Homo sapiens: one gene and its partner. The protein of the gene in region 1 interacts with the protein of each later gene in a pairwise test. Each region holds a gene or a part of one and is shown on either strand. Other genes may lie near its edges.

Region 1 (6,952 bases):
ATGTAAAATGTAGAATAAATCAGAGATCAATATTTGAGCAACATACTATTTCGTTTTTGTTTATAGAAAAGTGAAAACTAAAATTGAATGAAAGCTTGACTTTAGCCAAATAATCAAGAAAAGTTTTGTGTCACTTTTCCGTAACAGCCATTTTTTTTTCCCTGTAATAGCCACTTTTTCTTTCTTTTTAAGACACTTAGACTTATGATTTTTTTTTTTTTTTGAGATGGAGTGTCTCGCTCTGTTGCCCAGGCTGGAGTGCAGTGGTGTGATCTTGGCTCCTTGCAACCTCCGCCTCCTGGGTTCAAGCGATTCTCCTGCCTCAGCCTCCCCAGTAGCTGGGATTATAGGCACGTGGTGCCACACCCAGCTAATTTTTGTATTTTTAGTAGAGATGGGGTTTCACCATGTTGCCCAGGCTGGTCTTGAACTCCTGACCTCAGGTGATCCACCCACCTTGGCCTCCCAAAGTGCTGGGATTACCGGTGTGAGCTACTGTGCCCGGCCTTGATCGTTTTTTTAAAGAGGAAACTCTTAAATGAAAAACTCCTACACTACAGGATTTATGAATGACCGCTTGTGTGGTCAAGGTACTTATTTGTCCGCTGATTGTCCAATTTGGAAATTATTCATGCCTTTCTTTCCTGATGGCTGGTTTGTTTGTAAGAAACCATTGTTTAAAATTTCATGGAAAATTCTAATAAAAACTGATCAGCTGGAACTACGCTGGTTCAAATTCAGTCTTCTTATTTTAAAATTTTATTTATTTATTTAAGATTAGGTCTCACTCTGTCACCCAGGCTGGAGTGCAGTGGCACTATCATGGCTCACTGCAGCCTCGACCTTCTGGGCTCAAGCAGTCCTCCCACCTCAGCCTCTCGAGTAGCTGGGACCACAGGCGTGTGCCACCACACCCAGCTAATGTTTGTATTTTTTTATAGAGATGGCATTTTGAGGCAGGGAGCAGTGGCTCACGAGCCTGTAGTCCCAGCACTTTGGGAGGCCGAGGTGGATGGATCACTTGAGGTCAGGAGTTTGAGAGATGGGTTTTTGCTGTGTTGCCCTGGCTGATCTTAAACTCCTGAGCTCAAGCGATCCACCCGCCTTGGCCTCCCAAAGTGCTGGGAGTACAGGCGTGAGCCACTGCACCCAGCATCAGCCTTCTTATTCTGTCATCCCTTGTCAACCTCTGAGATGCCTTCAAGGAACCTCTTAAGGTATCCCAGAACACCTTTTCTAAGGGACCTTTTTTTAAGTAATGTGCATTAACCTCTTTTCTAGATAGTGCTGGATACACTAGGAAGAGAAAAGCAAAACGATAGTGCCAGAGGCTAAGGGAACCTGAAAAATCAAATAGTTGCCTTTTGCTACTTGCTAACAGCCTAGTGAAGATTTGGTAGAAGTAGTATTTGGACCTTTTTAAAATTTTTTTTAGTGTCAATGGGTTTACATAATTCATCTATTTCCTATTCCATATTGCCATGGAGCATAGTGTAGATCATCTAGACTTAGCTGTATGCAGCTTTTCTACTAGAGTTATTAGTGTCATCCTCAAGGTAACAGGCACTAATAATTAGAACTCTCCGTCTTCTTTTTTTTGGTATCTCCCTACACTCCTGACTCTTATATAGAACAAAGAACTTTGAGTCTGGCAAGGCTTATAAGACAACATGGGGAGATGGTGGAGAAAACTCACCTTGCAATGTAGTATCTAAACAGCCAGGCCCGGTGACAAATGGTCAGCTTCAGCAACCAACAACGGGAGCAGCCAGTGGTGGATACATTAAACGGTATGCCAACTCCTCCTGATATTCCTGTACCTTTCTTAATGAATGGTTCACTTAGGAGATGAGTTTAGCAGTACATGACCCCTAATAAAACAAATAAAAATTGTATTTATTCCATTTTTAAAATGCATTTAAAAATCTGCCCACTGACAAAATGTGGGTTTTTTTTATTTGTTGTTTTGTTTTGAGACAGAGTCTTGCTGTGTTGCCCAGGCTGGAGTGCAGTGGCGTGATCTCAGCTCACTGCAACCTCTGCCTCCCAGGTTCAAGTTATTCTCCTGCCTCAGCCTTCCGAGTAGCTGGGACTACAGGTGTGCGCCACCACGCCCAGCTAATTTTTGTATTTTTAGTAGAGACAGGGTTTCACCATGTTGACCAGGCTGGTCTTGGACTCCTGACCTCAGGTGATCCACCTGCCTCGGCCTCCCAAAGTGCTGGGATTACAGGCATAAGCTACCACACCTGGCCAGACAAAATGTTGACTGTGGTGGTTGACCTTGGGTGATGGAATTAACTTTTCTTTATACTTTTCAGTACTTTCCAAATTATTGAACTAGACATATTTTACTTTTATATATAGAAAAAAATAGGTTTTAAAATGTGTCATCTAGAACAAGGGTCAGCTAGATTCCTGTAAGAAGATCTGTAACGAGCCAGAGAGTTAATATTTCAGACTTTTCAGGCCATACAGTCCCTTGCAATTACTCAACTCTGTTGTAGGGTTAAAGCAGGCATAAACAATATGTAAACAAATGAGCACAGCTGTGTTTGAATAACACTTGATTTACAAAATCATATGGTGGCCAGATTTGGTCCTTGGGCCGTAGTTTTCCAACCTCTCTCTTAGGGCAGTGCTTCTTTAGATAGACTTAACTGTGCATTAGAACCACTTGAGGGGCTTATTAAACCGTAGGTTTCTGGGATGCACTTACAGTTTCTGATTGAGTAGGTCTGGAATGGAGTGTGAGAATTAGCATTCTCATGTCTAACAGCTTCCCAGGTGATGCTGGGAATTAAGCTTTGAGAAACACTGTTTCAGAGTTTCTTTCTTTTCTTACATGGCTTTAAGATACTGTGCTCTCTTTGATGAGTCTCCCAGTTTTTATTATAGAATGTTTCCCAGGAATGGTAACCTATATTCTTTTGGATCTTATACTTGCTGAGAGTCATTTTGGTTACTTACTTTTGTGAAAAGTAAATCCAGACTTTTATTTAAATTCAACAAAACCTATGGAATTAACTGTCTTCTTGTGATAGCATAACTAATGATGCCAGAGAAGATGAAATGGAAGAGAACCTGACTCAAGTGGGCAGTATCCTGGGAAATCTAAAAGACATGGCCCTGAACATAGGCAATGAGATTGATGCTCAAAATCCACAAATAAAACGAATCACAGACAAGGTAAAAGCTTTTTATTGCCACAAGAAAATGAGACACCCAGTTCAGTGTTTCAGTAATAGACATCTGTGCTAGATACTGTGGGGGACACGGTAGAATAAGCTCCTGTCCTCATAGGTCTTAATTCTGATGAGGTGGTGGTTCTAACACATAAAACAAGAGCCAAGTCCTCCCTGTCATGGTAGTTGGTGCATTTTGAAACCAGAGTTTTGGAATATAGTAGTTTTACTTAAACCTTCACACATGAAGCTTAGTATCTACTTTAGCTTTTGAGCGTGTTTTTTTCTCTCCCAAATGAGTTTTATTTTGTTAACTAATTTTTTAATTGAGAATGGGGTCTTGCTCTGTCGCCTAGGGTAGTGTGGTGGTACAATCACAGCTCACTGCAGCCTGCCTCCTAGGCTAAAGCGTTCCTCCCACATCAGCCTATTTTGTTAACTAAAAATAAATTAAGTTCCTGAATCCTCATCTCATGAAAGAGTCCGTAGGTGAAAATCTGTTCTGCAGAATAGTTCTTATGGAGTGGACACACGAAATAGAGTCATGTGAGTGAAAGAAAGTTGTGATTCTTTTTTTTCCCCCTTAACTTTACATGATATAAATATAGTGAAAGCGAAATTGTTTTCAGTGTTTTGATGTGTCACATGTAAAGTCATACCTTGGCCAACCGTGGTAGCTCACACCTGTAATCTCAACACTTTGAGAGGCGGAGGCAGGAGGATTGCTTGAGCTCAGGAGTTTGAGACCAGAGCAAGACCTCGACTCTACTAAAAAAATTTAAAAATTGACCAGGCATGGTGGCATGTGCCTATTGTCCCAGTTACTCGGGAGGCTGAGGCAGAAGGATTGCTTGAGTGTAGGAGTTGAAGGCTGCAGTGAGCTGTGATTGCACCATTGCATTCCAGCCTGGGCAACAGAGTGAGACCCTTTCTCAAAAAGAAAGGAAAAAAAGAAAGTCATACCTCATTAAAATCTCAGTGAACTTTAGGGTGAGTTTTTAAGCTTGGCTCTCTGTTAAATCACTTTTGATGGATTTAATTGAAACAGTGGTTCACAAGATGCTTTAAATGCTGCAGTCTGGGTTTAGGCTATATTTACCTGTCATTTTAATTCAGATGTTGGTGAGGATGGTAATAGATTCGTTTCAAAGATCTTTGGAAAGGTTATTTCAGTCTCTCCAGGTTAGACTTAGGGTGTCTGAATCCAGATGAGATTCTATGATTCAGTTCAGAGGACTCACACAAGGTCCAGATCTTTAACAGAGAAGAGCACTCTTTCATATTTCATTGCATCAAAAAATGCCATTGATTACAGGATGCATCCCAGTTTCAGGCATGTTAAACTATGAAAAAATGCGTTATAGAATTTATGAAATATTGGCAAGGTCTTATATGTTACACCTTTGTCATGTTTATATACCAGGGGTTTTCCAAATGAATTTCATATTCTGTTACTTCTTGCCCAACATGAGTTTTGTAATGTAACTTCACGTGGTTTCTTGGATTTTCTTGGTGTGTCAGTTACTCCAAGTGTAAAAAGTTTAATTTTTATTAGAGTTACTTACCTTGTAAAGCTGATATCTTTCTTGTTTTTCAGGCTGACACCAACAGAGATCGTATTGATATTGCCAATGCCAGAGCAAAGAAACTCATTGACAGCTAAAGCTACTGCTGTTCTTCTTTATCATTTATTCACTTCCGTAGCTCCTCCTTGAAAGTTATTACCTTTTCAGAGTTTAAGTTTTCGGTTCCACGCTCTTCTAATTGGGAGATAATATGGAAGAAGGGCCAGAGCAGTTACAGCCCTCCTTCTTTTTTGTTTTCTGTTGAGGGCCGACTGCTGCTCTGCCTTCCTTCTAGTATTTTCTTTCTCAATTCATACGCTTAGATTGGTTTTCATATGTCATGTTTAGTGTTTTCATCCTCCTCATATACTTCAGCAGGTTCTTTTGCTTTCAAGATTTGGAAGCATTGCCAAAGACAGCCATGAAGAAGGAAGCTGTAGAGGTGTTTTTTGTTGTTGTTTATTTTTGCTTTTGTGGTTGAGGGAAGGACAAGAGATAAGAGGTTGTTACCTCAGTAAAAACCTTCAGGCCACAAAGCAAAAAGTTGCATAGCCACAACGAAGATCTAGTTGGATATAGTTTTTGATTTAAGTTGCAGTTATAGCCAATTTAGGCTAATGCTTGGTTTTGGAGCTTTTATACACAACGTTTTTGTTAGGCATCACAGTTTTGCAACCTCTGCTCCAAAGAGAAAAATAGAATGAGTTTTCTTTCTTTTTTTTTTTTTTGGAGTCAGAGTCTCGCTCTCTTGTCCAGGCTGGAGTGCAATAGCGCGATCTGGGCTCACTGCAACCTCCGCCTCCCTGGTTCAAGCAATTCTCCTGCCTTGCCTCCTGAGTAGCTGGGATTACAGGCGTGTGTCACCACGCTCGGCTAATTTTTGTATTTTTAGTAGAGACAGGGTTTCACCATGTCAAGCTGGTCTTGGACTCCTGACGTCGTGATCCACCCGCCTTGGCCTCCCAAAGTACTGGGATTACAGGCGTGAGCCACTGTGCCTGGCTGAGTTTTCTTAAAGTGAGCTTAATTTCTGAACTCTTAGTGATTCATATATGTACATAAATCTGTGATCCCATTTCTTATTGCACCATTCAGGAACACTTTATATAAATGAGTGGCTTTTTATTTCATATTATTAGTAGTATCATGGTTCCATTACAGGCCTATTAACATCATACATTGTCATTAGTCTTTGAAGAAAAAATATGTAAATATATATGTGTAACATGAGAATTTCTCTCTAAAGCAGGGCTTAAAATTTTTTGGAAAAGTTTGACAAAGCATACCACATGAATTCAGATTTACCTCAATGCTAAGAATTATGTTTAGTTAGGAAAAAGGAAAGTCATTTTGACCTCAGGTAGAAAAATAGATTGCTTTGAGTTTTATGTAGCTTTAGACTTTAAAAAGTTAGAATTTATTCTGTAACTAAAAATTATTTGAAAAAATTATGCCTCTGGTTTAATTATTGGTGATTACACACTCTTTCTCTTACCCTTGTGTATTGAACTATGTCCATAATCAAGTTGATGTGGATCCTGAAAAGTGTTATGAACATCTGATTGGTATTTGTCACATTTATTTTAAAATTAGCATCTGAACACTTCAAAGCTGTCAGTGTGTATTGGTTTCACCAATAACCACTGCTTGATCCTTACAATTAAATTTTTTAACTAACTAATGGTATTGTTCTTTCAAATAGGTAACATGTTTCTATGACTGTTATTTGGGGGAAAATAGTTTCATCAGCTCTCATTTAACAAATTAATAAAGCAAAGATCCATACATCAAGAAACACTACAGCAGGAAGCTGCCTTTAGCATCTTTCCAGTATTTATTGAAAATATTGATGGGACTTAAACTTACCTTGCTAAAAATTTATTGTGAGGTTCATTTTAATCATTACTAGTCTTACTCACTTGAGCTTAAATACACTAGTGACTGGAAGGGTAATGGTTCTGTGTGAGAACTACAACTCACTGGAGAAGATACAGTTAATGTGGGAGCTTTCAAAGGCTAAAGAGGAAAATATTTAAATAAAGTGAGATGCAACTACACCCTCTGTAATAGAAATGCTCCATGTCAAAATGAGTGGTTTGGCAGGGATGGTAAATATGTAAAGTAAGGTGTAAAACGGAGGATTGTGCTTTACCTAAATGCCTTTCCTAAAACCATTTACCATAAAAAAAAATTTTAGCACTG
Region 2 (7,027 bases), on another chromosome or scaffold:
TCTGACATCAAGTGATCCACCCACCTCAGCCTCCCAAAGTGCTGGGATTACAGGCATGAGCCACAACGCCTAGTCGGCCTCCATTGTTTTTGATAAGAAGTCTGCTGTCATTCAACTTGTTTTCCCCTATAAAAAAGGTGTTATTCTCTAGACACTTTCATAATTTTTTTCTTTTAGTTTCAAAAGTTTAATTATAATGTGGCTTGGATAGATATATTTGGTTTTAAGCTATTTGAGTTTCCCTAAACTTACAGAATCTGTAGGTTTATGTTTCTTGTCAAATTTGAGAATCATTTAGCAGTTATTTCTTCAAGTACTTTTTCAGCTTCCTTTTTTTTTTTTTTTTTTTTTTTGAGACCGAGTCTTGCTCTGTCGCCCAGGCGTGCCAGTTTAATGGCGCAATCTTGTCTCACTGCAACCTTTGCCTCCCAGGTTCAAGCAATTCTCCTGTCTCAGCCTCCCAAGTAGCTGGGACTACAGGTGCTTGCCACCACACCTGGCTAATTTTTGTATTTTTAGTACAGACAAGGTTTCGCCATGTTGACCAGGCTGGTCTTGAACTCTTGACCTCAAGTGGTTCGCCTGCCTTGGCCTCCCACAGTGCTGGGATTACAGGCGTGAGCCACCATGCCCAGCCAGCCCTTTTCTCTTTCTCCTCCCCTTCTAGAACACAGATGCCACAAAAGTGAGACTGTTTTATTATCCCATGGGTCCTTGATGCTCTGTTCCTTTTTGTCAGTTTGTCTTCTCTCTGTTGTTCCTGTTGTTGTCTTCCATTTAGTGCTTCTTTCCTCTGTCCCTTTCATCCTGCTGTTGAGCCCACCCACTTTTTATGTATGGTACTGTTTTTTTTTTTCAGTTCTGAAATTTTTATTTGTTTTTACTTTATATCTTTTTTCCTGTGGCTTCCTTTTTCTTTGTGGATGCTTTCCATTTTTCCATTAGCTTCAGGTGTTATTGTACTTGCTTTTTGGAGCATTTTTATGAGGGCTTCTTTAAAATCTTCGTGGGATATTTTGGACATTTCCGTCATCTGGAACCATCATCTGTTAATGGTCTTTTTTCATTTAGCTTGAGATCTTCCTGTGTTTTTGGTATTACAAGTCATTTCTGATTGAAAACAGGGCATTTGCACATTAGGTTATGAGACTGGGTCTTGTTTAAACGTTCTCTTTTCAGTTGGCCTTCTTTGACATTCCTCTGGCTGGGGAAGGTGGGGATGTTACCTCATTACTGCCAGGTGGAGGTAGAAGTGTCAGCTTTCCACCAGGTCTCTGTTGACACCTGAGGGGCCTAGTCAGCCCTGGGCAGAAGTGGCATCCCCTCTCCTTATCTGTTTCTGCCAGCACAGTGCTGGTTTGTTCTTGGTATGGTGAGAGTCTTCACCCTCCACTAGACCTCTTCTGACAGCACACCAGCTGGAGAAAGAAGGGGAACCTCTTTCCTGCTTGACAGAGACAGGATGCAGGCTCCCAGTGTGGTCTGCACTGCCTTAGTGTCAGGGGGTTGGGTGGGGATCAAGCCTCAGCTCCCTATTTGGCCTTCTCTGAAGCTCCTAAGCAGAGGTATTGGGGTGCTTCTTACAGTCTTTCAAGAATGGACTTTAGGACTCCTTCTTCAGCCTTTGATGATGTAAATGGAGTTAGGGCCTCAGTTTTTCTGTGATATTTGGCTGGAGTAGAGCAGTTATTGTCTAAGTGTTTTCTCTCTTGCTGGGCTGCCCCTTTTCTAGTCCTTTGGCCAGAGAGAGCAGGCTTTTGTCTCTTCTCTTTTTATCTGTGCATACTGGCATTTCTGGGTTGCTGGTTCTTCAGTTTCATGCCATGGATATAGGAAGGGAAAAGAAAACTGAGGGAACCCACTACCACGTTTTCCCTTGGGAAACGTTTGTTTTTTAGAAAATGACCTGGGCTTTTAGTAGTGCTTAGTGGGAGGATTAGGGGAAAGGATGTTTACTCCATCTTATTGGAAGCAGAATTCTTCTGAGCTATTTTTAACTGGTTAAGACTTCATGTATTTAATGGTCTTGTCTAGTAAAATTTCTACTATATGGTATTCGGATAAAATAATATATTTCATAGCTAAACAAACATAAGATACATAATTATTTTCTAAAGGACAACAGATGAGAATGACTTTGCCTGATATAAGAGGGTAAATCTTTTAAATTTAACTCTGCGTTCTGTGCCTAGGTTGGGGCAAACACAATGGATAATCCTTTGTTGAAATACAGTGCAAAGGATTACTTCTTCAAAGCTGCCCTCTGCCACTTCATAGTAGACGAGTTGAATGCCAAGGTAAGGAGTTCTTCAGCATTGATTGACTGATTTCACCCATAAGAATACGTACACATTCTCTCTTGTTCTTGGTATCATTTCATTTTGATGTTAGTACCAAGAATAAACGGGTACATTAAAAATAAGTATTATTCTGTGGTATGTGTCCCAGTTGTAATCTTTTAACAGCTGTCAAAGCTGTTCTCAAAAGTTACCTGATAGTTTATAGCCATACCACCCTGAACACACCCAATCTCGTCTGATCTCAGAAGCTAAGCAGTGTAGAGCCTGGTACTTGAATGGGGGGCACTGCCTGGGAATATTTAGTGCTATAGGCTTAAATATATGTATATGTTCACTGGTAGCCACCATTTTTTTTTCAGTAGTTTTGCTTTAAAGAAATTAAGGGGGCCAGGCGTGGTGGCTCACATCTGTAAACCCAGCATTTTGGGAGGCCAAGTGGGGTGGAGCACCTGAGGTCAGGAGTTTGAGACCAGCCTGGTCAAAATGGTGAAACCCCGTTTCTACTAAAAATATAAAAAAATTAGCTGGGTGTGGTGGCGGGTGCCTGTAAGTCCAGCTACTTGAGAGGCTGAGGCAGGAGAATCACTTGAACCTGTGAGGCAGAGGTTGCAGTGAGCTGAGATCGCACCACTGCACTCCAGCCTGGGTGACAGAGTAAGAGTCCGTCTCAAAAAAAAAAAAGAAAGAAATTAAGGAACTAAGGGAGGAGACAATAAGAGTAGGATAATATCCATTTAAAAAACAACCAAAACAACAGGCAAGCTCAGAAATGGTGTTGGAGTGAGGACTGGGAAGAAGTTGAAAAGCACAGTGAGCACTGGGAGCCAAGAGGCAAAAAGACAGGCAGCCTTGGCATGGCCAGTGTCTGGAGTTGGAAGAGCAGAACTAAAGCCAGTAAGAGAAACTGTTCTTTCTGTCAGCTTCGAGCAGGAAGCTAAATGTAATTTATTTGGAATCTGGACTGTATTAAGAACGTCTCCATTTAATGGATGGATACAGATACCTGGTCTGTGAGTGTTTAAGAATTCATTTTCATTTACAATGTCTTCTCAGCAGCAGCCTAACTCAGAAAAAAGTAGTTTAGAAATTATTCTTTATTGAAATGGAAAATTCAGAATAGAAAGATTTTCTATGTTGATTCTGCTTTTGAGTTTAACTACATACTTTTTCAACACTTAATAGGATATAGGTAGATCTTATTTGAAGCTGATAGAATGTTGAAAGCTTTGTTTGTTTAGTAAGTCTGAAATTGATGAGTGGTTTTTCTCTCTCAGCTTGCTCTTGAGAAATATGAGGAAATGTTTCCAGCATTTACTGATTCAAGAGAATGTAAATTATTGAAAGTAAGTAATATTAGAACTTTGAAGAAAAATGCTTTTGTTCTGTTAGGTGACAACACCTAAGTGGGATTGGGTATGAAGTGAAGTTTTAATCTATAAAGTCTGCTAACTGAGGGGCCCTGGTACTTTCCTGCTTTCGTATTATAGGTGTTCAAATGCAATTAAGGTCAGAAACATGTAGTTGTGTTCTGAAATAGGCACCTGAGAAATGTTACTACAGAAGCTAGATCCCTAACTTGGCTCTTGACTTGTATATGAGTATTTCCTCAGTTTTGTGCAATATTTGGCAACATTGGTATTATACTTAAAGTATATATTTAGAAATGGGACTTCATCTTACAGAACTGTTTTTTAAAATATTTTTATGCTACCAGAAACTCCTAGAAGCTCATGAAGAACAGAACAGTGAAGCTTACACTGAAGCAGTAAGTTATGCTTTTGGGACATGGTACATTATTTGAAGATTTAAGTTAAAGAAACTTCTTTTCCTTTTCATTATGTGAATTCTAAACATTTATTTGAACATGACTCCAGCATACCTTAAGTTGTATTTTCCAAACGTCACCTTTTATATATCACACAAATTAAACAGTTCCATTAGCCATGCTGAGATTCGACTTACACTCAAAACTAATTTAGCTGTGAGACTAGTTCAGGAGCAAATATTCCATTTATATTCTTATAATTTGCTGTTTTAATTTTTTCTTTTGAAAATAATCTGACCCATAAATAAGTATAAAGTAAAATTAGTTAAGGCCAGGCACGGCGTCTCACACCTGTAATCCTGGCACTTTCGGAGGCCGAGGCAGGCAGATCATGAGTCAGGAAATTGAGACCATCCTCGCCAACATGGTGAAACCCCGTCTCTACTAAAAATATAAAAATTAGCCAGGCATGCTGGCACACGCCTGTAGTCCCAGCTACTCGGGAGGCTGAGGCAGGAGAATCGCTTGAACCCGGGAGGCAGAGGTTGCAGTGAGCTGAGATTGCACCACTGCACTCCAGCCTGGTGACAGAGCGAGACTCTGTCTCAAAAAAAAAAAGAAAAAAAAAATTAAATATAATTTAAAATATAAAAACTAAGTAGTGAGAATTTGCTGTATTTGTGGCATGAAATAAATGGAAGGTGGCCAGGCACGGTGGCTCACACCTATAATCCTAGCACTTTGGGAGGCCAAGGCGGGTGGATCACCTGAGATCAGGAGTTTGAGACCAGCTTGGCCAACATGGCAAAACACCATCTTTACTAAAAATACAAAAATTAGCCAGGCATGGTGGAGTGTGCCTGTAATACCAGCTACTCGGGAGGCTGAGGCAGGAGAATCTCTTGAACCCAGGAGGTGGAGGTTGCAGTGAGCCAAGATCACGCCATTGCATTCCAGCCTGGGCAACAAGAGTGAAACTCCATCTCAAAAATAAATAAATAAATAATAAATATATATATATATTAAAAATATGAGGGTTTTTTTCTTTATACTTTTTGTTTTTCCATCTTTTGCCATCTCATGTTTAGAATCAAGCAAAAAAAAATGTTTTTATATATTTTGAAACAGATCCTCACTCTGTCACTCAGGCTGGAGTGCTGTGGTGTGATCACGGCTCACTGCACCCTCAACCTCCTGGGTTCAGGTGATCCTCCCACCTGAGACTCCTAAGTACCTGGGACTACAGGTGCACACCACCACCCCCAGCTAATTTTTTTTTTTTTTTTTGCATTTTTTGTTGAGACAAGGTTTCACCATGTTGCCCAGGCTGGTCTCTTAACTCCTGGGCTTAAGCTATCCACCTGCCTTGGCCTCCCAGACTTCAAGGATTACAGGCATGAGCCACTACATCCAGCCTCAAGCAAATTTCTCAGTAGCCTCCTGTAACATGTTCATCACAGCTCAGGAGTGATAGAGGAAAGGAATGTTTTCCTGTCTGACTTTTGCCTACCACATCATTTTCATCCTATTGTAATTTTATTTTTGGGTAATGCATTGAAATGTGTTAATTCCGCTTCCATACATATTCTAACTCTGTAATTAATGTTTTCCCATGTTCAGTGAGTATTAATTTTCCATATTCCTTTCAAATTTTTATACAATATCCAGTTACTTTTGCCACAATAATTATGACTGTTAATGAATTTTTTTCTTACACGTTTGAAAACAGAGAAATGTCAAGCCCAGGAACTTGTCACTAGTATCAAAATAGTAACAGGATAATGAAAAAATAAACAATTTTTTAATGAAGAAAGTTATAAACTGGAATGATTAATTTCAAATGATGAAGAAAGTTAGTAGATTATGGCTGTAAAGGTATAAACAGCTTGGGGTACTATTATTTTGTGTTTTTAATGTATTTACATGGGGTAATTCCTGTTCCTCTTTCCTTATACTAGGTGAAGGAATTTGACTCAATATCTCGCTTGGATCAGTGGCTGACCACCATGTTGCTTCGCATCAAAAAGTCCATCCAAGGGGATGGAGAAGGAGATGGAGACCTAAAATGAAATGTTTTTGTCTTTGTGGCATGCAGCTAACTCCTCTTTAGTTTTGTCTTAGGGTCAAGTGATCTTTATGGGATGCCTATTTAATGGCTTAATTTTGTTGCATATGAGCCAGACGGCCTGTGTATTGTTTAAGCTCGCCAAGTCTGTGTTGCTGTGAAATGAATGAAGGAGAGGCTCCTGTTCATCTTGTGGTAATGATGGGTTGTTTCATGCTTATCAGAACCCCCAGCGTTTTCTGAGAAGTACTTCAGAATCTCATTCCTCATATTTCATTGGTATTTGTGGAGCCTATGTTTAATGTTGCCACGTGTTTTTATGTCCTTTTTGTTGGACTTGAGTACTCAGCCCAGTTGTTCTCATAGATGCTTTGCATTTTCTCTGTGCTTTGGCATCTGAATATGTTCTTTAAATGTGTGTTTAGTTTAGGACAGTTACTAGGAATGAGTTTATAACTTCATTAGAAATCATTTCTATTTTTGTTATCCTGTGATTATTTTGATGGTGCTAGTGACTAGTTTCTTTGCTTTTTGTGTTGTTCCGTATGCTAACATGTGCATGGCAAAAATTTAGAATAGCCAGGGTCTGTAGGCATCACATTGTGAGGAAGGGAGCTTTCTGGAAGTACTTGCTTCATGTATGGATGAGTGTCAAAGTGAATTTGATTTGTACTTAGACACACGCGTTTACACACACACACATATCACAAGATCTGTTAGAAATGGAATTTTTCTCTTTTTCTGGAGATAGTTTTCACTTTTAGTTGGAGTGGAAATCCCTTTATATTTACATTGAAGTATTTTAATTGGCATAGCCTGCTCATTATTTTCATGTTTATACACTTTCCCACGTTGAGGTGGTGTGTTCTGTGCTGTGACTATAGAAATCTTGGTCAG

Evidence for each region. Proteins that work in one complex are often made in the same cells at the same time.
Region 2: the proteins of SNAP23 (region 1) and NAPB interact in binary tests that used the Homo sapiens proteins (3 or more experiments, as listed by UniProt).

The regions. Positions count from the first base shown.
Region 1 is NC_000015.10:42,526,631-42,533,582, forward strand, and holds the end of SNAP23 (synaptosomal-associated protein 23), read left to right. Parts: intron 1-1,631; coding exon 1,632-1,790; exon of another isoform or gene 1,791-1,841; coding exon of another isoform or gene 1,842-1,871; intron 1,872-3,044; coding exon 3,045-3,189; intron 3,190-4,782; coding exon 4,783-4,848; 3' UTR 4,849-6,428; downstream 6,429-6,952. UniProt on the Homo sapiens protein: Essential component of the high affinity receptor for the general membrane fusion machinery and an important regulator of transport vesicle docking and fusion.
Region 2 is NC_000020.11:23,376,483-23,383,509, reverse strand, and holds part of NAPB (beta-soluble NSF attachment protein), read left to right. Parts: intron 1-2,192; coding exon 2,193-2,297; intron 2,298-3,574; coding exon 3,575-3,643; intron 3,644-4,014; coding exon 4,015-4,065; intron 4,066-6,023; coding exon 6,024-6,134; 3' UTR 6,135-7,027. UniProt on the Homo sapiens protein: Required for vesicular transport between the endoplasmic reticulum and the Golgi apparatus.